Regions from separate parts of the Homo sapiens genome. Here regions 2, 3, 4 and 5 are each linked to region 1. Evidence: fine-mapped expression QTL. A gene starts in region 1. Each other region holds a variant in brackets. All regions are shown on one strand. Distances are from middle to middle.

Evidence for each region. PIP is the estimated chance that this variant, and not a neighbour inherited with it, causes the effect.
Region 2: its variant is the best candidate, but not a certain one, in a credible set for the expression of PGAP1 in subcutaneous fat (FUSION, PIP 0.53).
Region 3: its variant is the best candidate, but not a certain one, in a credible set for the expression of PGAP1 in hypothalamus (GTEx, PIP 0.82).
Region 4: its variant is the best candidate, but not a certain one, in a credible set for the expression of PGAP1 in whole blood (TOPMed, PIP 0.55).
Region 5: its variant is the best candidate, but not a certain one, in a credible set for the expression of PGAP1 in whole blood (TOPMed, PIP 0.57).

The regions. Positions count from the first base shown.
Region 1 is chr2:196,924,588-196,929,695 of GRCh38, reverse strand. It overlaps PGAP1 (post-GPI attachment to proteins inositol deacylase 1), which reads left to right and starts at 2,989. Exons shown (of 27, transcript NM_024989.4): 1 at 2,989-3,226. The coding sequence starts at 3,080. RefSeq lists a silencer at 2,791-3,040.
Region 2 is chr2:196,671,168-196,676,275 of GRCh38, reverse strand. CCDC150 (coiled-coil domain containing 150) reads right to left here. Exons shown (of 28, transcript NM_001080539.2): 9 at 3,839-3,931; 10 at 1,928-2,035; 11 at 9-133. Among named protein-coding and RNA genes, the nearest start is that of CCDC150, 34 kb to the right of the region's middle. The variant T/C (reference allele first, on the strand shown) is at 2,114.
Region 3 is chr2:197,019,958-197,025,065 of GRCh38, reverse strand. All of the region lies in intron 17 of ANKRD44 (ankyrin repeat domain 44), which reads left to right. Among named protein-coding and RNA genes, the nearest start is that of PGAP1, 96 kb to the right of the region's middle. The variant T/C (reference allele first, on the strand shown) is at 2,383.
Region 4 is chr2:196,949,326-196,954,433 of GRCh38, reverse strand. No RefSeq gene overlaps it. Among named protein-coding and RNA genes, the nearest start is that of PGAP1, 25 kb to the right of the region's middle. The variant G/A (reference allele first, on the strand shown) is at 2,874.
Region 5 is chr2:196,844,166-196,849,273 of GRCh38, reverse strand. PGAP1 (post-GPI attachment to proteins inositol deacylase 1) reads left to right here. Exons shown (of 27, transcript NM_024989.4): 21 at 1,237-1,327; 22 at 2,074-2,271; 23 at 3,257-3,392; 24 at 4,700-4,750. Among named protein-coding and RNA genes, the nearest start is that of C2orf66, 37 kb to the right of the region's middle. The variant C/T (reference allele first, on the strand shown) is at 2,128.

The DNA.
Region 1 (5,108 bases):
CTTTGTATTTTTAGTAGAGACGGGGTTTCACCATGCTGGCTAGGATGGTCTCAAACTCCTGACCTCGTGATCCGCCCACCTTGGCCTCCCCAAGTGCAGGGATTATAAGCATGAGCTACTGTGCCCGGCCCAGAATCTGCTTTTTAACAAAATCTCCAAGTGATTCACATGCACATTAACTTTAAGAAGCACTGAGATAGAGATGAGGGAGTATGGATTCACCCTGGGTTTATTTGTCATAATACTACTCCTACCATGCTAGGAGAAATAAAGAGGAGACGTTCTGCCTTTGATGTTCTTTAGCACCCAGACTCAATGTATTCCCCCCTTTTTATTTATAACTTAAAGCCTTCCCCAAATGATTTGTAATCCTCTGCACTCACTGGTAATTGCATCCCAAACCCCACATGCATTCTCTTTTATGGTCAACAATGTCAAAACCCTATAGTATATATTCCTCTTTATCACATTTATCTCTTAACATCTTGCGATCAAAATGGGTTCTTCTTGATAATCCAGTCATGTTGGTGTAATTCTACAAATTTAACACATTCTATACCTATTAATAGAATATAACAGACATGACATTCCCAAGTGAAATCACCACTTCATAAAGAATTTCAGGCTGGGTGCTGTGGTTCACACCTGTAATCCCAGCACTTTGGGAGGCCGAAACAGGTGGATCACTTGAGGACAGAAGTTTGAGACCAGCCTGGCCAACATAGCAAAATGCCTTCTCTACTAAAAATACAAAAAGGTAAGCCGGGCACAGTGGCTCATGCCTGTAGTCCCAGTACTTTGGGAGGATGAGGCGGGTGGATCAAGAGGTCAGGAGTTCGAGATCAGCTTGTCCAACATGGTGAAACCCCGTCTCTACTAAAAATAAAAAATTAGCCGGGCATGATGGTGTGTGCCTGTAATCCCAGCTACTCGGGAGGCTGAGGCAGGAGAATTGCTTGAACCAGGGAGGTGGAGGGTGCAGTGAGCCGAGATCGCGCCACTGCACTCCAGTCTGGGCAACAGAGCAAGACTCCGTCTCAAAAAAAAAAAAAAAAAAAAAAAAATTAGCCAGGTGTGGTGGTCACACCTATAATCCCAGCTACTTGGAGGCTGAGACACCAGGATCACTTGAATCCGGGAAGCGGAGGCTGCAGTGAGTCAATATCGCGCCACTGCACTCCAGCCTGGGCGACAGAGCAAGACTCCGTTTCAAAAAAAAAAAAAAAAAAATTAGCCAGGTGTGGTGGTCACACCTATAATCCCAGCTACTTGGAGGCCGAGGCACCAGGATCACTTGAACCCGGGAAGCGGAGGCTGCAGTGAGTCGATATCGCGCCACTGCACTCCAGCCTGGGCGACAGAGCAAGACTCAGTCTCAAAACAAACAAAAACGACACGTCTCATACAGGACTTACTTCAATGACATATTACTTAATTGCCCTCCTGATCAGTACCACCTACAGCTCCCCTGTTATCCTGGTCTTTCCAGACTTATCTCCCTACAAAAAAGGAGACTGCTTCCGCATTTTCCCATTTCTGTCTTTCTCCGTCAATACTCCACATTCCGTAGCTAGCTGTGTTTGTTTAGACTTGCAACTGTTTCTGTGCAGGGTAAAGACTATCTTGATTTTCAGGATCACTCCACTTCTTCTTCATAGTTTCGTAATCTGAACATCAGGGTGTTGTACAAGATAAACTATAAGCTTCCTTTTGGTTTTAAAATTCTTTGATTTTATGTATTGTAGCCAAACTTCCTCTGCACAGAAAATATACCAGAAAATCAGCCCAAGTTCAATGAAATTCATTTAGTGCCAAAGACCATTCTAAGAATCCTGTGGTTACTACACACACACGCACACACACACCGTCTACTGTTGAGTCAGCTTTAAAGAGTGATGTCTTTTTCCTAACATTCTAGTGTTTTGAAGCTGCTACAAGTGATTGATTTCGAGCTTTTTTTAAAAACTCCTCCTTTGTACAAAACAGAACCGAAATTCTTCAAAACGAATTAAGTCATTTGCGAGTTTGAATGGAAGCTGGACGAAATTGCCTCCTCCAGTTAACGTGGAACCCATTCCCCAAGAGATGGAGGTTCTGGAGAGCAAGGCGAGTCAGCGTCAAACTGATTACGCAGATACCTGTTGGGGACGTCAGTGCTAATAGATATTTTGGTAACATATTTTAAGGACTAACGATGCTTTTTGTGATTCAGGCTTTCATCTGATACCAAGAGCAGAATCTCGTCGGCTTGCGGGTGTTTTTTTTTTTTTTTTTTTTTTTTTTTTTAATGAGCCGGTGCTTTTAAGCGCTGTTACCTACTGGGCCCAAGTAGGCGGTAGAAGAGGGAAAATAAAGCCATTTGTTCCCTCTTCAAGCTAACTGCTCCAGAGAGCTGTGAGTGTGCTCTACTACCGTTGGGAAAACCGAAATTGCGGAGGCCTGAGTCTTTTCAAAATTGAACGGGAAGCGTTTTTAAACTGCCGCAGGGAGAGGCGTTTGCGAGGTGACAGCTGATGACCCCTGGGCTTTTAAGTCCTCCTCCCCTCTCTCGGTCCGCTCTCGGTCCTTAATCGCCTCTGGACTCTGGGCTCTAGTCCCCTCCCCAGATTCACCCATCTGACACCCGCCTCCTGCCCAATCCCCCGGCTCGTCTCCAGGGCTCCCGCGCTCCGCCCATCCCCCTCTGGATGCTTCCTCTCTCTCTCTTCTTTCCCTCCCGCCAGCCACTCCTCGCGTCTTTCTCTCCCCACTTCCCTTCTTTCCCCTCACCCTCCAGCCCAGCCCACCCTGCTTTCTCCCTCTTTCTCTTTCCCGTAGATCCGCGCTCGCGCTGCAACACCTACTCCTCCCTCGGCTCTGGGAGTCGCCAGGCCAGAGGCGCCGCGGACCTGGTGCGCGCAGGCGCACTGCGCGGCTGGCGAACGGGCAGGCCGGGCATCAGCGCAGGCGCGCGCGGCTGGGGCTCGGCTCCGGGGGTGGCGGTCGGACAGTGTCTAGCACGCTCAGTCCGGGCTTGGGGCCCCGCGGCGGAGAAGGAGGTAGAGGGGGCGGCGGCGGCGGCGGCGGTGGTGGCGGCACCATGTTTCTTCACTCAGTTAATCTCTGGAACCTGGCGTTTTATGTCTTCATGGTCTTTCTGGCAACCCTGGGGCTGTGGGATGTCTTCTTCGGCTTCGAGGAGAATAAGTGCAGTATGAGCTACATGTTTGAGTACCCGGAGTATCAGGTAAGGTTCTGCCCTCTCCTCAGCCGGGCGCTCCAAGACTCTGGCCCCTGGTGCCTTTTTCCTTCTGTGGGTTCGTCCTGCCTTGGCTCTCTGCGCCTCTCGGGCCCCCTGTCCCGTCCTCGCCTCTGTTTTCTCCGCCCGGGGAGACTCTGCATCCCCCTTCTGCCCCCCTCACCTCCCCTTTGTGTCCCTTCTTCACGGTGGGGTGTTTGTTAGACGATTTCCCGAGAGCATCCTCGTGGTCGTCCTCGTAGTTACTCCGCTGTCCCTCCGCCTCCTCCCCAGCCCCAAATCCTGGGCACAAGCTCTTCTGACTGGCCGGGCCCAGCCCCCCTCATGCCCAGAGAGGCAGCCTCAACCCTTCTCCCTAAACCGAAGCTCCATCCCTCTCGCGTTCTTGCCTTAACCCGTGCCCCAGGACCTTCCTTTGCTTCCCACGCGCCTAAATTCCCCTCGCGCCCGGTGATCTGCTCGTCAGATTTCGCATTTCTAGAAAGGGACCGAGCGTCTGCAGAGTGTATATTGGCTAGATAGTTCCCAAGGCTGTTTTTAGAGACTCCAGGGTTTTGCCTATGGGTAAACTGGCGAGTCATTGAATTGGAAACTAGATCCCCTCTTGGAAAGATGTTGCAGATCCTCTTATTTTGCAGGTTAAGGGGCCGTGCGTGTGTGGGCTTGCCTGTGTGTGTGCATACCTGTGTTTATGCATGTCTCTCAGCAGCCGAGCCTCTTAATAGTTGCATACAAAATCTATTTCATGGTGCTATTTTTGTTTTCTCGCTGGGTTCGGAGTTTAAGAGAGAGCCAACCCTTCTCTCTCCACCCCTACCGCTTCCATGCCATTTTGAATGTTTTCAATCAATGGCTTCGTTAGTTCGGCATAGTAGGATCTAGAATTTCATTCATGACTAGCTGTAAAAAGAGGCGCAGACAAATTACACAACTGTCCTAAGAGAATTTTTCCGAATGATTCTTTTATTTCTAAGTGCATCTCTTAATTATGGACTACCTATTGTAATAATTCCCTACCATAAAATGTATATGCACTATAACATATATTGATAAAATACATTTTTAGTATACTCTTAAAATCACAGCAGTTTTTTTTTTAGGGTGAAGGATGCAAGTCCTGATTGCTTCTTTGTACAAGTCATTATGGAGGAAGCCTGTTACTTGATTACGCTGCTATTATTTTGATCTTAAGACTACTTAAGGTTTAAATTGCTGAAGAGCATTCTTTCCCATGGGAAAAATTCTAGTAAATTTAGATTTCATTTGTGTTTAGATCCTTACCTTGGTTTTGCATTTATGATGATAAGAGAGTGGAAACATTTGGTAGGGATGCTATCGAAGGAGAAGATTTTGACATGTTACTGTCGTCTCTGTTCATTTCTAAGCAAACCTTTTTAGTTTAGTATTTTAAAAAACTGAAAATAGAGCTATTATAATTCCCTCCTTATTTTTGGTTTAATAATTAGGAAACTCCCAATAGATTGAAGTAGGTCACTTTAGTTTTGTACCGCATTGAAGAGTTTGGTTAAAATCATTTTGTGACAGTACAGTACTAATTCCCATTTATTTTTAGATTTCCTACAATTATTGAAGCTATTTTAATATTCACAGAAGTAGAAATTGTTCTCTTTAGCGTTGGGAACAAAGCATATGGATCTCACAGACGCATTTCCTGCCTCATAAATTGACTGGAAAAACAGAAAATTAGTGTAGCTAATGGTAAAGAGCTCTTTGGGTTTTTATTGTTGTTGAGTAGTCTAGGTTTAGTTATTTTGGTTTAAGTTGCTTTTTTGGGGTTTTACACTTCTATTAATAATTTGCTAATACAGTAATAATCACAGTGGCAGAAGTTTTTGATTTTTAGCAGGTT
Region 2 (5,108 bases), 250 kb after region 1:
TTACTTACAGATGTGCCTGGAGTTGGGTTTTCTCATTCTGAACAGTCTGTAGTTCATTTGTGATACTGGCATGGGCTGCATCCAGCAATAAGTTTTGTTCTTGAAATGTCTGCGTCATCATTTTCTGCTCTACCTGAGTGTTAAAAGCAATATTAGAAGTTGAAGCTCCACAAAGTCTTTTGATAGGGTGTCATTTGGAGTAACTGATCAAAAACACTGAACTAACTTAAAAAAACAAGTTTCATTTACATAAATAAAACCTCTTTTTAAAACAATTTATTTCAATGCCCAGTTTCTCTTTGTCCTCCTCTGAGTTGACTAGTTCTATCATTTTATAGCTCTACTAGCCAATAGTCAAGATGCATTATTTACCCAGCCTGCTGAAAAATTATAAAACTCCTAATACCAACAAATTTTTAAATATAGAAAATTATATTACAAGTAATTTTGGTATTTTAAAATTTCAATATGGTACTTTATTTTTAAAAGTAAAACAATATAAATGTATATAAAGTGAAAAGATCCTTTCCTCTCTATCTGCACTTCCCCTCCAAATAATCCCACATTCTAAGGATTATCATGTTTAACAGTTTGCTGTGAATTCTTTTAAGACTATCTTAAATTGCACTCAGATAATGTTACAGCAGAAGCACTATAACTGTTTTACATAGTTTATTTTCTTTGGCTCACCATTTTGGAATTATCAAAACATGACATTTTTATGTACCATATACCCCTACACATAATCCATAAAGTTTTTGCAAATACAGTACATATCAACAATTAGTTTTATAAATACTTTTTAAAAAACTTCTATTTTAACAATATTTGATTGCAAAGCAAGTCTTCACACTGGTAAAATGGGATCCCAATTGTTATATTCCAAAATTTTGAAATATTTGTAATAAATATTTCACTATATATTCAGTCCACTGAATTATAAGTCCATGAAAGTAGGAATTTTGTCTTGTTCACCACTATAATCCTATCTAGATATAGCATTATACTTGCACAGAGTTAAAAACTAAGTATTTATTGAGTATATGTTATGTGCAAAGCATGCTTAGCACTATGAGAAATAAAGATATATAAGGTAATGTCCTTGCCTCTAGAGAGCTCACAGTGTAATCCAGGAAATGAACCAGCACATAAATTACTACTAGAGAATGCAGAATAGGGATGCAGCATAATGATTATATACATTGACTCTGGAGTCACCCTAGGTTAAAACACAACTCTACCTCTTACTAGTTAGGTGAATTTGGGCAAGTGAACTTCTCTAACCCTCATTTTCTTATCTGTAAAATGAGGATAATAAATATCCTTTTACATAATGGCTGCTACAATTAAAGGAGGTAATATGTGTAAAATCCTTAGCACAATGCTTAGTATATATAGTAAGTATGCTTACAAAAAGAGAAAGTGATCTATTACTATGGTGGTCTGTTTAGTGTCCCAGGAATAGAAGTTGAAAGGGAAAACTTATCCCTTCCTGTTGGGATGATCAAGCTGCCTGATGAAAGTGACTCTTAAAGAATAAACAGAATTTCAGATATTGAAGATGAAGTAAAAAGCATTCTCAGCAGAGAAAATGGCATAAGCAAAAGGAGAAATCGGCAAGGTGTTTGAGGAAAAGGTTAAGTACTTTAAGGTTAGTCATACGTGTTCTCCATGATTCTATAAACAATGGGACAAATAATTATTTTTCCTCAAGTGATGATATTTGAGAAGAAATCATGAAAAGCCCTGAGTGTAAGGCCAAATCACCCCTCTGATGAAAATTGAAAAGCACTAATAGAATTAAGATAATTCAGTAGATTTTTTGAAATTTATTGTTAAAATATTTTATTTCTCCAGTTGGCCATAAACATTTCCTGATCTATCAACCAGGCTGGCTTTCTGGTTGGCTTTCATGTTAAACGAATACCTGCAGAATGGCCTGATGGTCAGCAATGATTCTGGCTTTTTCCATAGTAACAGTCTGAAGCATGCAGCTCAACTCTGAACACTTTTTAGTCAATTGGTCATTCAAAACCTAAGAAAACACACACAGCAAGTCATTGGTCTCTCCAATAAAGAATTATTTTTACTTATGTATTATTATTTTTAATGA[T/C]TGCATAGTATCTCACTGTATATATGAAACTAATCTATTTAACCTATCCTCAATTCACATGTCATTAGTTTAAAAAATACTTCCAAATATTAAAAGTCTACACCATAAATAATTCTAAATTAAGAGATTTGTTGATTTGGTAGAGCAACTGAAGCATATGGCATTTTACTGATCTTCTGTTCTTCACAAATTTGAACACTGGTTCATTAGAGCAAGACATCTGCAAAATGGAATTTACAATGTCAGTACCTAGCCAATATTATAGAAATCCATGAGCATTCAGAATTATTTAGCTGGTAACACAAAATACCTAAGCTCCTTCACCACCAGCTGACAATATTCATAAAAGCAAAATATAGATGATTTTACCATCACGAGATTAATCTTTCAAAATAAAACAAAAATTGTTTGAGCTACACAGATATATCATATATGTAGGTAGTTAATAATTCTCTTTTCATAATTTGAAATTTGTATTATTGAGAGAAACATTTATCTCAATTATCAGTTATTTTTGCAAGGTAGATTTGGCAAAGATCTTATGTTTTAAACAAGTTCTTCAAGAACAAGCAACTTTGAAAGAGCACTAGGAAGAAAACACACAAAAAATAAAATGGAGTAAAAGAAAAGATAAATAAAAGATTATCTGGCAAACATCACAAGTGGTATGGGCAGGCAGTACAGTAGTTAGAAACAAATTCAGGGGCTTAAAGTCACACCAGATGCAGATGTACAAGCTATTCATCAAAGAATACCTGGGGACGAAACAGAGAACCCTTGCTCCTTGAAAAGAAATAGCTACTTTTCTTTGGAGCCAGGTTACCTGAGTTCAAATTCCAACTCTGCCACCTATTATCTATGTTCCTGAACTTCTCTGTACATCAGCTTCCTTATCTTTAAAATGTGAATAAGTTTCCATTTCATAGGGCTATTGTGAGGATTACAATTTGTTACTAATATAAGGTGCCTGGAATTGTGCCTGGAATGTAGAAGGGGCTCAGTAAAAATGTTACCTACTATTAGTATAGAAAGAGTAATAGTAGTTGATGTTATTATATTTAAAAACACATTCATTTTATACTTCATTATTTTTATTATACACAGAGCCCAGCAACACTATGATCCTAATATTGAGACAATCAAATTGTACCAAGAGAAAAGTTATTTTAAATGATAAACACTTCTTTTGGCTCTGTGATAAGTAACTCCAATTTGACTGCATATCTGGTGACTTTTTGTTGCAGATGCACATATATATAAAACATCAGCTAAATTTGGGAATCACCATCCCAGAAATGATTACATCTAACTTCAAAATCCAGCAAGCATTTGTTAGGTTCCTACTGTATAATTATTTACTATAGAAGATACAAAGAAAGTATAAGACATAGCCCTTGCCATGGAATTATTCAGAAGTTCACTTTGGAGGGGGAAATACATATATTTAATGAGCAAATTAGAAAGCAAGCAAAGGCAAAGTGTAAACTAGTGCATAATTATAGTGGTACATCTTGTATACTTATATATCATAGGAATTTGGAGAGCGAAATGAGAAACGTAGTTAATTTGATAATGTTTCAAAGATGAAATAAATCTTATGGAAATGAAAAGTTGGGTGATGGAGATGGTATGAATTTATATAATCAAGACTAATTTTGTTTCTTGGTTATTTAATTGAACAAAATTAAATAACATCTAAAAACTAACAAAATCATGAGCATTTACTTGTGCTTTTTCTGATGCTTCATGAAGAGACATTATTTCGGACCTCAAATATGCATTTTCTTCATGTTCCTTGTTGAAAGATATCTGCAGGTTCTATAAGAAAAAAAATTACTCTCTTTTTCACATATAAGAGATACTATGTGCACCCCTATAAAAATAACTGTTTTGTATTTCGGCCAGTACAAGTTCAAGTTCCAATGACATACACTGGAACTTTATAAATGTCTTATAAAGAATGTATAAAAATCTTGGTATCTTCAACTCCTAAACTTCTGTTTATTTCAAAACTATTTATCAAAACTGTTTATTTAAAACAATAATGAGATACCACTACACACCTATTACAATGGCCAAAATCTAGAACACTGACAACACCAACTGGTGTCAAGGATGTGGAGCAACAGGGACTCTCATTCACTGCTGGTGGGAATGTAAAATGGTACAGCTACTTTGGAAGACAGTTTGGTGATTTCTTACAAAACTAAACATATTCTTACCATATGATCCAGTAATCATGCTCCTTGGGATTTACCCAAAGGAGCTGAATACCTATGCCCAGACAAAAAACCTGCACACAGATACTTATAGCAGCTTTAATCATAATTGCCAAAGGTTGGAGCAATCAAGATGTCCATGAGTAAGTTAATGGATAACTTGTGGTATATCCAGACAAAGGAATATTATTCAGCACTAAAAATAAATGAGCTTTCAGCCAGGCACGATGGCTCATCCCTGTAATCCCAGCACTTTGGGAGGCTGAGGCAGGCAGATCACCTGAGGTCAGGAGTTTGAGACCAGCTGGCTAACATGCTGAAACCCCATCTCTACTAAAAAATACAAAAATTAGCCAGGCGTGGTGGAGGGCACTTGTAATCCCAACTACTCGGGAGGCTGAGACAGGAGAATCGCTTGAACCCAGGAGGTGGAGGTTGCAGTGAGCTGATAGTGCCAATGCACTCCAGCCTGAGTGACAGAGTGAGACTCCGTCTCAAAAAAAAAAAAAAAAAAAAGAGAGAGAAAAGAAAGAAAAATGTGCTATCAAGCCATGAAAAGACATGGAGGAAACATAAATACTTATTACTAAGTGAAAGAAGCCAGTCTGAAAGGCTATAGACTATATGATTCCAACTATATGGCATTCTGGAAAAGGCAAATCTATGGAGACAGTAAAAAGATCAATGATTGCCAGGGATTAGAAGGGGAGGGAGGGATGAATAGGCAAAGCACAGAAGATTTTTAGAGCAATGAAACTACTCTGAATGATACTATA
Region 3 (5,108 bases), 95 kb before region 1:
GGCACAGGCTGTGGAGACAGACTGCCTCGCCTTCATTCCCAGCTTCATCTGCTGGTGATCTTAGACACATGACTTACCCTGTCTTGAGCCTCAGTTTCCCCATCTGCGAAATGAGGGCAAATGAAAAGAGATAATGCACCCAAAGCCCTTAACCTTTATTCTTGTAGAGTTTAACCGTCTTTAAAATTCAAAGGATACATTTCAGTTTAAGAGATTTGATTAGCGATAACAATATACAAGTGGAAAACCTATGGCTAATTGAATACCACAGTTAAAAACTGGCAGGATGTTTCAGCACAAACTGATGAGAGCAAGATGAGCACATGCAGAGCTGCAGCTGCGACCTTCTGCCTGGACTTGAAATCAGGGTCTTCAACGAAGTCTGAGGCTCTGATTCTTGTACTGGGTGAGATCTGGGAGGTGAGGGAAGAAGAGTTATTTTATCACCAGTAACGCTTCCTCTCCACATCCCAGTAATTGAAGGCAAATGCAACAGCTCAGAGTGATGATCCCCAAACTCTTCATGGGAGTGACCAAGGTGGGAAGTGCACCCACCACTCTGTCTCAGATTGTGAGTTGCTAAGAGTTGGCCATCAGCAGCTGCTCCCTAGGAACCCTGCTGACTGGCAGCCACACCCAGCAACAGCCAGCTCACCTTCCCGAGGCACTCACGTGCCCTTGGTGCTGCTGAATTGTGAGCACTTGGTTCAAGGCCACAAAGATGGTGTTTGGATGCTTCTTTGCTTAGTAAAACCCAGGGGCAGGACACCAGGAAGAATGGGAAGGGGCTGGGTTTCTTTGTTTAACTGTGTTTATGACTTTTCACTTAATACTATGTGTACATAAGCACTCCTTCAGTGTCATTCTGATGAAAAATTGACCTGGAAATTTTGGAGAGAAGAGAGGAGTGTTTTATTAATTGACATGCAGAGGTGTTCAGGCAAGAGAGCGGAGACAAGGCCATCACACAAGGATTGGGAGTATCCAGAACTGACCATATGTGTGGAGCTTTCCTTTCACTGCCTGTCTCCCCACATACTCACAGCACACCTGCTGACACCCACTCACACGTCCTCTGACACCCACCAACACACCCACTACACGCTCATACACACATGCATTTTGAGTCCAGTGAAATCAGGGTAAAGTGTGCATCAGTCTGTGTTCCCGGAGATGGACTTACTGTGGAAAATGTGGATGAATAGTGGGATATTTATACATATAAATCTTCATGCCAGTTGGCCCTTAGTACAGGTTGCTTGCTAGAATCCCTGCCCAACCATCTGCTGTGCCTGGGGAAGTTACCCCAAAGCTGAGCACTCACAAACATAGCACTAACTGCCCCTAGAGAGTCTTATGTGGAGGGTTATCTCAGATACAATTCTCAGGCCCCAAGAAAGTGGGTTTGACTGCATTGCCAAGCCTGCTACTAATCTGAGAAGAGTTTCTTGGCTTCCAAAGACTTGATCATCTCTCGTTCTTCTTTTTTTTTTCCACAGTGTATTTGTTGAATGCTTATTGTGTACTCTGCTAAACTCTATGGGTTGCTGGCTGCGTAAAGATAGGGTGGTGATATCATTTAAAAGAGGTGGGCTTTGGTAGTTCTGCAGCTGACAGAGACCCAGGAAAGGTACATCAAGTGGAGGTCCTAGCTGCCATTCTTTTCATTAGCAACTCACCTGTGCATGGTTTCCCCACCTGTAAGTTAAAGGGAATCTGTTAGTTAAGCATCTCAAAGACCCTTTCCAACTTGTTAATTTATTGAATTGTTTATTGTGTGATATTAACCCAAATACCTCACCTCTTATGTCTCAGTGTCCCTACCCATGATATGAGAATAGCAGTACCTCAACGTAGGGCCATTGTGGAGATGGCATGAGTTAATGGATGTAACACAATTAGAACAGTGCCTGGCACACATATGTGCCATGAGCTAGCTTCATCGTCATCATTACTAACATCATATAACATCATTATTAACATCATCCTTTCATCCAACATACACTGACTGTGAATAGTGCCAAGCACTGTTTGAGTAGCTGGAGATATTGCAGTGAACAAAACCCCACCTCTGCCCTTGCAGAGTATCCAGTCTAGGGGAGACAAACAGGCGAGGAAATATCTCAAATGACAGATGGCAATAAGTGCTGCAGGTGCTACAGAGAAAATGAAATGGGATCAGGGAGATAGAAAGTATTGAGATGGCAGACAGGGTGCTTATTTATTTATTTAAGAGGTGGGGTCTCACTGTGTTGCCCAGGCTGGTCTCAAACTCCCGGGCTCAAGTGATCCTCCTGTCTTAACCTCCTGAGTAGCTGTAATTGCAGGCATGAGCTGCTGCACCTGGCCAGGGTGCTATTTTACGTAGCATAGAATCTCATA[T/C]TTGTACAGAGACCTTAAGAGCTATGCATGTTGACATCTGATGAAGGAGTGTTTTGGGCAGAAGTGCAAAGTCCCTGGGGGAACTCATGAACTGTCCACAGAACAGGAAAGGGGCCACTGTGGCTGGAGCAGAGTGGTGAGGAGAGTAGCTGGGGGCAATGCCTCACATGTTGTGGAGGGAGCCAGGAGTTTGGGGGGCCACCACAGATCTCATGGGGACTTTTACTCTGAACAAAATAGGAAACTATTAGGAGGGTCTTGAGGAAACAGATTGATATGATGTGACTTTTGTTTTAAAAGGATCACTTTAGTTTCTATGTTGAGTCAAAATTGCAAGGGAACGAAAGCAGAAGCAAAGCAAACCAGGCAAGAGATGATGACCATGACTTTGACCAGGGTGATTACGGTGGATTCCTTCTAAAGTCATTTTATTCTTTCTCTCTAAATACAAATTATTTGCTTTAAGGACCCAAAAGGTATGCCCATCACCCTCTCTAGGGGCCTCAGTAGCAATTAACTTGATAAAACCCAAGGCACATAATTTCTTAGGTGGAAGCCATCTAGCAGTGTAATGGAACCAGATGCCCCCAAACCTTGACTGCTACAAGAAACCTGACCTGCCTTGAGTTACTATTTCCTGGCTGAATGATTCAAATCTCCAGGGTTATTGGCCCAGTGAATTTCATAAGCATTTCATCCTCTTGAAAAGATTAAATTAAGAAACAATGTTATGCAAATGAAAGGCTCTAGCTGTCAAGATTTCCAGACAGATCCATTGTTCTCATGGATTCTGTTGAGATCCCAATTCTTTCCCCTCATTGTCCTTAGTTCCTATCTTAAAAGGTCTGGAGAAATTAATCACGTTTAAGAGATAATTGTTTATAAAAAGTTGTCTTTCGTAGTTGCTAGACATAGTGTTTTATACGGCAGTTAGAGAAATTTTTCTCATTGTGCAGCTCACATATTCTGTAAACTTACTTAACATTTGGTTTGGTTGTTTGGTCAGTTCCTGAGAGAAATTAGTTTAAAAATCAAAAAACCCCATCTAAAAGTGGGCAAAGGATATGAACAGACACTTTTCAAAAGAAGACATTTATGTACCCAATAGACACATGAAAAATGCTCATCATCCCTGGTCATCAGAGAAATGCAAATCAAAACCGCAATGAGATACCATCTCACACCAGTTAGAATGGCGATCATTAAAAAGTCAGGAAACAGCAGGTGCTGGAGAGGATGTGGAGAAATAGGAACGCTTTTACACTGCTGGTGGGAGTGTAAACTAGTTCAACCATTGTGGAAGGCACTGTGGCAATTCCTCAAGGATCTAGAACTAGAAATACCATTTGACCCAGCCATCCCATTACTGGGATTGTAAATCCCAAAGGATTATAAATCATGCTACTAGAAAGACACATGCACATGTATGTTTATTGTGGCACTATTTACAATAGCAAAGACTTGGAACCAACCCAAATGTCCATCAATGATAGGCTGGATTAAGCAAATGTGGCACATATACACCGTGGACTACTATGCAGCCATAAAAAAGGATGAGTTCATGTCCTTTGTAGTGACATGGATGAAGATGAAAACCATCATTCTGAGCAAACTATCACAAGGACAGAAAACCAAACACTGCATGTTCTCACTCATAGGTGAAAACTGAACAATGAAAACACTTGGACACAGGGCAGGGAACATCACACACTGGGCCTGTCGTGGGATGGGGGGAGGGAGGAGGGATAACATTGAGAGAAATACCTAATGTAAATGAAGAGTTAATGGGTGCAGCACACCAACATGGCACATATTTACATATGTAACAAACCTGCACATTGTGCACATGTACCCTAGAACTTAAAGTATAATAATAATAAAAAACTCCATATATAATTATAAAAAAAAAGAAATAATTGTTACCTAATAAGGCTTTTTAAAGGTGTTGCTTAAAACAATTTAAAATGTTTAATACTTCTAGTGAAGGCTTTACTTTATGCATAGTAAAATTCAGGAGCTACAAACTAGATAAAGAAACAAAGCGAATTTTATAGATTATGCTTGTCCAACCCCTGGCTGAAGGGTTGCATGTGCCCAGGATGGCTTTGATTGTGGCCCAACATAAATTTGTAAACTTTCTTAAAACATGATGAGATTCCTTTTGCAATTTTTTTTATTTAAGCTCATCGGCTATCATTAGTGTTAGTGTATTTTATGTGTTGCCCAAAACAATTCTTCCAACGTGGCCCAGGGAAGCCAAAAGATTGGACACCCCTGCTATAGATAAATCTGGCCTCTCAACCATTCTGTCTTTAAGAGGGTTTTCAAGTGCCTGGTATAGAAGAAAGTATGGGTTGAAATTTTAAAGCTTTCCTAATTGCCAGCATGGTTCACTCCATTTGATTTTAGTATTAGGTCTCTTTAACTTAAGCAAGTTAAGTCCAAGTTTAAGCGACAGACTAAGCCTGGAGTCAAGTGTCATAGCCTGATGTACACACTGATGTAGGCACTCCTTTTATCTCAAGTTTTACATGAAGTGCTCCTGAGTTGGCTTAAAATCACTTGTGTGGCCGGATGTGGTGGCTCACGCCTGTAATCTCAGCACTTTGGGAGGGCAAGGCAGGTGGATCACTTGAGTCCAGGAGTTTGAGACCAGCCTGGCCAACATGGTGAAACCCCATCTCTACTAAAAATACAAAATAAAAATAAAAATACAAAAATTAGCT
Region 4 (5,108 bases), 25 kb before region 1:
TCCTTTCTTTTCCTAACAAAAAGCAGCCTGAAAAATCAAGCTGCAAGCATAGATAAGCAAGCTAAAAGCTTGCATAGGTAAATACCAGCAGCTGTGCCAATAGAAGAAAAAGGCTACCTGGGGGCCAAGCATGTTCAATATGGAGGCTCCATCTTCCCCTTTCTTTGTCAACGATATGTACAGTAAGGAACAGACAACATGGCGCCAGCCATGTGGAGAGTCCATCTGCATAATAAAAGATTAGGGTGGTATGGCCAGCTTTCTCATGTGCTATGCAAACGTCACACCTAGTCCAACCAATCTCTCTCGGGCCCTGTGTAAATCAGACACCACATCCTCAAGCTCCTCTGTGAAACCTCATGCATTTCACCACGAAACTGGAAGATCCAGTTAGGGGTCTGCAAGAGAGAGATCTAGTCTCTTTTCTCTTTCTTTTGCCTATTAAAATTCTGCTCTTAAACTCACTTCTTGTGTGTTCACGTCCTCAATTCCCTTGGCATGAGATAATGAACCTCAGGTATTTACCCCAGAAAATGACACTTCTTCAGTATTTAATAATAATATATAAGTATTATTATAAAATGTATTCCGAGAATACAAGAGTGGTTCCTTAGTAGAGCATCAATTAATACAATTAATCATATTAATAAAGCTAAGGAAAAAAATCAGATTGCTGCTGCCATAAATGCCAAAAAGGTATTTGGCAAACAAAATTCAACATGCATTTATGTTAAAAATACTCAATTAATAGAAATTGATGGCTATTTCAGCCAAAGCCAGCTTCCCACCTAATGGAAAATTTTTTTTTTTTTTTTTTTTTTTCTGAGATGGAGTCTTGCTCTGTTGCCCAGGCTGGGAACGATCTTGGCTCACTGCAACCTCTGCCTCCCGGGTTCAAGTGATTCTCCTGTCTCAGCCTCCTGAGTAGCTGGGATTACAGGCACGCACCATCACGCCCAGCTAATTTTTGTGTTTTTAGTAGAGATGGGGTTTTGCCACGTTGGCCAGGCTAATCTCAAACTCCTGACCTCAGGTGATCCACCTGCCTTGGCCTCCCAAAGTGCTGGCATTACAGGCATGAGCCACTGCACCTGGCTGGAAAAACATTATTAAAAGTAGTAAGAAGACAAAGATGACCACCATGTCCATTACTATTAAGCCTTGGAAACAGGGATTAGCCAATACAATTATATGAGAAAGTTTTTTTTTTTTTTTTTTTTTTTGAGACAAGCTCTTGCTTTGTCACCCAAGCTGGAGAGCAGTGGTGCAATCATGGCTCACTGCCCTGGCTCAGGTGATCCTCCCACGTCAGCCTCCCACGTAGCTGGGACATCAGTTGTACCATCAAGCCTGACTATTTTTGTTGTTGTTGTTGTTGTAGATGAGGTTTTGCCATGTTGCCCTGGCTGGGAGAAAGCATTTAATTACACAAGAATCAGAAGGAAAATAAAAAACTATCTCTTTCCAGATGATGTGATTACATATCTAGGAAACAAAAAATAGGCCTGGCTCAGTGGCCCACATTTCTTGTAATCCTAGCACTTTGGGAGATGAGGTGGGATCACTTGAGCCCAGGAGTTCAAGACCAGCCAGATCAATATAGGGAGACCCTGTTTCTACAAAAAAATTTAAAAATTAGCTTGCCTGTTGTCTGAGCTACTCAGGAGGCTGAGGTGGGAGGATTACTTGAGCTCTGGAGGTTGAGGCTGCAGTGAGCAGTGATTGCATCACAGCACTCCAGCCTGGGTGATAGAGCAAGACCTTGTCTCAAAAGAGAGAAAAAAGAAAACAAAAGTAAATGGAGAAATTAATATAAATAATAAGAGAATTTGGTAAACAGGTAGCATACAAAATTAATATAAATAAGTCAATAGTCTTATATAAATACATAATAAGCAGACAGAAGAAATAATGCTTGATACCTATAAGCACTTCTGAGAGTTTTTGTAACATATTCTACAGCTGAGTAGGACTAGGTGGTTAGATATAGAAGTGGCAAAAACAGCTTTGACTTTTCCTTTTGTAACCTCCTGTATGAATGATTAACAATAAGTTGATATGCTTAAAACAAAACTAATTAGTAATAGAAGAAAGAATAATAATTTATTTTAGTTTTCCAGAGGATTGTGATGGATGGGCTAAGATGTAAGGCATCCACATGAATCCTGGAAGGTCAGAAGCCTCCAGACCTTCACCTCTTCCCACACTCCACCCCATATTCCTTATGCCAGAAAAGCCCCGCCTAGTTGCAGTTCCCTGGCACAGCAGGTTGTTTCATTGCTCTGTGCCTATGCTTTTTGTAGGAACTACAGAAGGAGGTCTCCTTTCAAGGGTCACACTCACTGAGGCCTCTTGAGTGCCCTCCTCTCTCCAACCCTCATCCCCAGCTCCGGGTAGAATTTACTACTTCCTTCTTTGTATCACTCCATGAACCTTGCTCATTTCCACATCTGCTTCATCCCTCAAGACTGTCTGACTCCTCTCCAAGCATACTCCTTGCCCTAATGTATCTGGTCAGTAAATTGAGTGAGTGAGAAAAGAAAATATTTGGCTTAATTACTTGATGGGTGGCTGTCTCAATTTCTGGGATAAGAATCTTTCAAATATCCCTACTCTGGTTTTCCCAGTCAAAATATTTGTCACATATCATGATGGTGAATTAGTTTTGAAACATACTATAAAAGAAATATTCATACTTCTTTGAAGTAAAAAATGACTGTGAAAAATATTTCCTTTTCAAGTTGTATCATTTGCAACCAAGAGGAGAGAAGGTACCATTGTATGTAATTAAACAGATTTTCAACTTTTTAATAGATTGTCTCTATAAGTTAAAGATACTTATGTGCACAATAGTCATTGCCCCCTCTAATCTA[G/A]TAGTTCAGAACAAAGCTAGAGCTGTAGGACCCATGAGTGCTGTGTCCTCCAATGCCTAGGGGTACTGTTAGTGAACTACCTTAAGAAACCCGAAACAGAAATTTGCGATGCAATCTGAATTCCAAATGACTTGCAAGCAGATTATACTCTAAAAATTCATTTGTAAATTGAGGACCTTGAACTCTTCAAATCAAGAGGAAAAGGCAAATGAAATAAAACATATCTCTGATGACATATAATTAGAAAAATAACTTCTGAAAGTAGTTGTCAGGATAGAAGAGAGACTTTTCACTGTTCACACTTTTTACCTTTCGAAATTTGTACCATGTGATAATTATTCCTCCAAAAAAGTTTATTTTATTTAAAAAATGTTAAAAGTGTTAAATTATAGATTTAGATCGTTTCTCTAGTGTGAAAGTGAACATATATTGTTTCTTTAACTTCTGGTCTCTTTCTCCTGCTGTTGAACTTGAACCTGCTTACTGTAAAAATTACTCTACATGCTGGCTTCCCCTTTCTGTAAAAATAAGTACATCCTGGTGGGAGTAACTTGTTTTGTCTTAATCATAAAATGAGTATCTTTCACAGTAATATTTATTCCCTACTTCTGGGGTTTTCTTCTGTGTGAAGGGACATCAGTTAGTATAACTCTCCTGACCCTCTGCATCCACACACTCTACCCTAGGGAAGGGAGTGACCTACCTGCTGAATTTGGGAGCCCCATGCTTCCTCCTCTCCTCCTCTTGGGACCAGTTACCCACAGGAAGCACCCTTGTCTCTAAGCCAGTGTTATAGGACCAGACCTCACACAGATCGCCAGCAGTGGTCCACACCTGAGTGGGAATGTCAGTCTAATTCTGGGATGTAGTATTTTTCCCAGACATAAGTGGCATTTTCCAATAGCTGCTTTACAAGTAATCAAAATGATATGTTGATCTCCACCTGTCTTACCCCAAGCCTATCTCTTCAAACCTCAAGGAAAAATGGAGGTAGTATGTATTTGTCCCAGTGGATATCACCTGCTATGCCTTTCTTCAGTGGTGCTCTGAAAAAAAAAACAGGAAAAAAAATATTCAAGTAAGATGCATTGAAAGCATATTGGTAATTCAGAAAAATATATTAAAATGAGGAAAATCTAATTTCAGACTGAATTTCCTGTGCTTTATTCCTTCATTTCTCCCTATTTTTGTCTCCTCCTACTATTTCCTGGCTTGCGTTACATTCTTATTTCCTTAATCAGTTGTTCACTCACTACTCCTTCATTCATCCATTTAACAAACATTTAGTTAACTCCTATGTGCCAAATGAGAACATAGCATTCCAAGACGACTAAAACAGTCTGGTGGAAGAGATAGATAAATATATTGCTAGTTAAAATGCAATCAGATAAGTACAGTGGCAAAGAAGTGCACAAAGAGTTATGGAGGCATTGAAATGCGACATCTAATCTAGCCAGGGGGAGCCAGAGAAGGTTTCTGGAAGATGTAGAACCTGAGCAGCATCTTAAAAGATGAGTGGGAGGCCGGGCATGGTGGCTCATGCCTGTAATCCCAGCACTTTTGGAGGCCAAGGTGGGCAGATCATCTGGGGTCAGGAGTTCGAGACCAGCCTGGCCAACATGGTGAAACCCCAACTGTACTAAAAATACAAAAATTAGCCGGGCATGGTGACATGCACCTGTAATTCCAGCTACTGGGGAGGCTGAGGCAGGAGAATTGCTTGAACCTGGGAGGCAGAGGTTGCAGTGAGGCAAGATTGTGCCATTTCACTCCAGCCTGGGAGACAAGAGCGAAACTCTGTCTCAAAAAAAAAAAAAAAAAAAAAAAAAGAGTGGGAAAAATAAGTTCTGATAGTTCTGATGAATAATTAAACATTTTTTCATTGCCACTTTTATCTCCAAGGGGGTGAATTTGCACAAATGATTTTTAAAATTTTTTTATTGTAAATTGACAATTTATAATTGTATGAACTTATGAGGTCCAAAGTGATGTTATGATTTATTAATACAATGTGAAATAATTAAATCAAGGTAGTTAACATATCCATCACCTCAAATATTTAACTTTTTTTTTGTGGTGAGACATTTGAAATTTACTCTCTTAGCAATTTTGAGATGGAAAGCAAGCAACCTGTGCGTTGTGAGTATGCTTTTCAAATGTGATGCCTGGCTCTGTCATGCTGGTTGTCGCAGATCCTTTGGTGCACCCTTGGCCTACCTCTGGTTGCAGCTGCAG
Region 5 (5,108 bases), 80 kb after region 1:
AAAAAAAAAAAATTATTCTGACACTATGACATCAACCAGAACCAGACTTAAGTATAAATGTCTATCTTGTTTTGAAAGTCTGAAAAAGGTCTCGTTTTTCTTGGTTTCAACTGACTTGATAATTGATTCTCAGACATATAGAATGTACATCTAGGGGATATTTGATGCTGGTTAATCTAGAGGCTTTAAGTACTGGATTATGTATCCAGCCAATTAAATATGTAGTTCTGAACCAAGGATGCTTATCAAAAATCACCTGTGGATTATACCCACTAGAACGACTATAATTTTAAAAAGACAAATAATAAGTTTTAATGAGGATGTGGAAAACCTGGAACCCTCATACACTGCTGGTAGGAGTGTAAAATAGTGTCGCTACTGTGAAAAACAGTCTGACAATTCCTCAAATGGCTAAATACAGAGTTATTGCATAACTCAGCATCTGCATTCCTAGGAATATAACCAAGAAAAATGAAAGCATATATTCATACAAAAACTTATATGCAAATGTTCATAGGAGTATTATTCATAACAGCCAAAAAGCAGAAACAACCCAAATGTCTGTCAATTGATGAATGGAAAAATAAAATGTAGTATAATCATACAATGGAATAAAAGGAATTTGATTAAAAAGAAATTAAATGAAATACTGGTATATGTTACAACATGGATGAATCTTGAAAAAAGTGGAAGGAGACCATCACAAAAGACCACATATTATGATTCCATGTATGTGAAGTGTTCAGAATAGGCCTATCTTTAGAGAAGGAAAGTAGATTACTGGTTGCCAAAGGATGGGAATTTGGGGGGTAATAGTTAAAAGAAAACTTTCTTTTGTGGGTAATGAAAGTGTTCTAAGACTGTGGTGATAGATGTACAATTCTGAATATACTAAAAACCACTAAATTGTATATGTTTAAATAGAAGAATTATATCAGAATTTTGTCCCATAAAGCTAATTTTTTAAATCACTTGTGGAGCTTTGTGAAAATACAGCTGGTGAAACCCCAGCTTTGACTTCCTGAATTTGTTTTTACAAGTGATTGAATGTGTACTCTAATATAAGAACCATTGAATTACAGCTATTTTTAATCTTTCAAGAAGAGTCTCTGTGATAGTAATGAAGACCCTTACTTTCTCTGACATAAAATATGTTGCTGTTTTAGAGAACGTGGGATATAGTATATCTCATACTTAATTACTGTAAATTGCATGTAACTTTTTTTAAATCACCAGGTTGTTGCTTAGAATATGCTACCATGTTGGATAAAGAAGCCAAACCATACAAAGTTGATCCTTTTGTAATTATCATTAAGTTTCTGTTGGGGTAAGTTTTATTATCTGTGATAATGATTTTAATTGTGTTTTACATGTAACATTATATTTGGTTCCATAATGCAATATAAATTTTCATACAGATTTGGCAGTTGACTTGTTTCATTAAATGAGGTTTTTTTTTTCTCTTAGGCAAAGGTCTAATAAGTATATCAATGTCTACTTCAATAGTATCATTTCAAAAGTAATTATTCACTTTATGTATATCAGTCTAAACTTAGACTGCCTTTAATGTTTGTAAATAGGTGTATATGGTCCATGATCTGTGAGTATCCTAGATTCAAACGCAAATCATTACAGGGTATTGATGAAACAGTGCCTCTCTGATCACTTTTAAAAGTATATTTTAGACCTCTCTACCCTAGTTAACATTCCATTCTTAATTTAGTCACATTTTCAGATTTTTGGTTAAGCATCAATATGTAGATCTTTTTTTCCATCATTACAACTAACTTGGCTTTCTAAAAAAAAAAAAAAAAAGAACATATTACTTTCTACTAGTATCAATATAGATTAGTAAAGCTATACTGAAATGCAGATCTTCAAAGATCAGTAGGCTCACTTGGAAAATAAATGACTTGTTCCATACAAAGAATTAAAAATTTGTTTTTCAGTATAATTATAAATTAAGTATCATGGAACTTTAGAGACTCTCTTGAATAGTCAGACACCTCAAATATTAAGTCCTTAAATTTCAGTTGTTGGGTTTTTTGCTTTTATATTTTCTTTTCTCCACAGGTATAAATGGTTTAAAGAATTGTGGGATGTATTATTGTTACCAGAATTAGATGC[C/T]GTCATTTTAACTTGTCAGAGTATGTGTTTCCCCCTGATATCCTTGATTCTCTTTCTGTTTGGAACGTGTACTGCCTACTGGAGTGGCCTACTGTCTTCTGCATCTGTGAGACTTCTTTCTTCATTGTGGCTAGCTTTGAAAAGGTAAAGAATGAATGATTAACAGCTTTCTTATTGCTTTAAGAAGAAATATATATTCTGATAAGGAACCTGAAATTAATTATTTTTACTAAACTATTTTCTAAGGAAAAATATATAACTAGCGAAAGTATGGGTTAGTGTTCAAAGTTATGTCTGTGAAAGCTAATCATTTATTAAGAGTTAAATGTTACATTTGATTTTGACCTTAGCGCTCAAGAGTTAATAAGAAAAGTTTGACAAATTACGCAGATAGTTTTACATTTCGTGGTTGTGAATCTTTCCCAGGAGGGATTGTTTCTCCCATAATATTGCTTTTATATGCTGACTTCTATATTGAAACCAGGGGGCAAGAGACTGTAAACCAGATATTAGGATCAGATTAGATGAGATATATAAAAGCTCCAAAAACATTGCCTAGAGTTTTATTATGGGCCCAATGACACAGTTTGAATCTGAAGTTACTGGTAGGCTTTCCTGGTAAATCATCAATCTAGTGCCCATTGCCACTCCTCCTTACCAGACATGTCATGTGATTTCCTGTCACAGAGGGGATTATGGTGGGTGTGATGCTTCTTCCTCCACCCTTCTGAGATGCTTCAGATAGGGGTTCTGATAGTAACACCATCAAGGGTCTGAGTGGTCTCTAGGCTTTAAGAAATAGAACATAGTTTCTCCTCCTGTCAAGACTGGAGATGTATGGCACAGAGTGTATAATTAATGATTATCTTTGGTAACATTTTTTCACCTGTAGTACAAGTATCAGCTATAGTATTATCAAAATGGTAGAGGAGTTATCACAATACATTACAGAACTTAAAATCAAATATTTGGGACCACTTGCCTTTATTTAAAAAATACCTTGTTGTTTACCTTATGTATTTGCATATAAGCAAGAGAGACTGGGAGGGTACTATATTGTTTTCTTCTTATATGTGACTATATAAATATTTGTTAATATATATTTTAAACTTTATTCTTATAATTCCAGACCCTCTGAACTTCCTAAAGATATCAAGATGATATCACCAGACTTGCCCTTTTTGACAATTGTCTTGATCATAGTTAGTTGGACAACTTGTGGAGCACTAGCCATACTTCTTTCTTATCTTTACTATGTGTTTAAGGTATGTCAAATCAGTAAAGCCAAAATGATTGAGCTTTGTATTAGGCACATACATGTAGGATGTTCCGTAGGCATTGTTAACAAAAATTCTCATAAACACTGTAGTAACCCTCTGTTACATAACGGGTTTGAATGTAATTAGTTATTTAAATTACATACAATTAACTGGAAAAGGGAAATTATTGATCTAAGTTGGGGTTTTTTTGTTGTTAAAAAGGAAAGGGAAAGGAGAAGATATAATCTGTTTCTGCTTGCTTCTTAGTCTTTACAAGTGTTAAATTTTTTTTTTTTTTTAACATTTCACTAGGGCAGTTTATATTCACACCTCTTTTTGAACATGGGTAAGAGACGAAACAAAAAGTGATGTCAGTAGGATCAAGCTATTAATCATACTAAGATAATATAAAATGTTACAAATGTTGCTGAAGGATCAGAAGATGACAATAAAAATAATTAGGCTAATATTTTTACTGAAGAAGTGAAAAACGTGTCTGATAAAGCTGACAGCTTTGCAAAGAAAAAAAAAAAAATCCAGGAGGTAATACAAGTGTATTCTCTCCATGTTATTCTTAGGAACAGACAGTTGACATCAGAGTGGATAATTCTTTTTTTCCTTAAAAATGAAATTTTTAAAAGTGTAAATACATGCATATCATATATTATTTTCAGTTTTCCAAAGGAAATTTATATGCTTCTTAAAAAATTATTTACAGCTACTTTGATTTATAAATAATAATTTTAGTATTTTTTAAATTAGGTAATTCAAACCACTGACCCACTAAGCAAAGTTTTCTTAAATACTTAAGTAACCCTAATAAATTAAATTTAAAGATTTTTTTCAGTTCTTATAAACATTTCACCACTGTATATAATTGGGTTCTGGTTTTCAAAGACTTAAAATATGTGAAATGTGTTATATCCTTTTACTATATTGAATGTAATGAAATCTTTGACTTACAAGACACTTTAAGTTGCTATAACAAAGCATCATTCAAACATAGGCTTTTACAGGTTATAAAAGGTATAGCGGTATATCCTGGCCCCACCATACTCCAGAAGTTTGTATTGTTTTGTTTCTGTTTCCGTTTTTTTGTTCATTTGTTTGTTGCTTTTGTTTGTTTTTTAATCCATGATAGCCAGCATGTGTAGTTGTTGTTTTGTATAAGAATGTTTTTAAATGTTTAAATGACTTTTTGGTTTACATTTTAAACATTTCAGATTACAGTGCTTCTCATTTTTAATACCAAAAGGCTTATATGTTTTGTTTCAAAATAAAAGTAAAATTAAAGAGCAATTTATTTTTCTTAGGTTGTTCATCTGCAAGCCAGCTTAACAACTTTTAAGAATAGCCAGCCTGTGGTAAGTTTTATTTTCAAAACTCTACATAAATTTAAAATGAAAGAACATGGGGAAATATAAGAGTTTTTTTTTTTAAGGTTAGTATTTCATAGTGCTTAAAAGATACAGTATTATGAATTTAAGTAAAGTGAACCTAATGAATATTTTAAAAGACTTATAAGTTCATCTTTTGTCAGTACCCATGTCATTTTTTTACAAGTTTATTGTCTATTAAATTTTATTTTGAATAATTACTTAGATATATTCTTAGCAGTAGAACTAGCAAGTCAAAAGAATAAAGGTTTTATAACAATTTTAAAGTATTTTTAAGCAAAGTAATTTCAGGATTTTATGTCAGTTTGGTAATGGAAAGATGTAC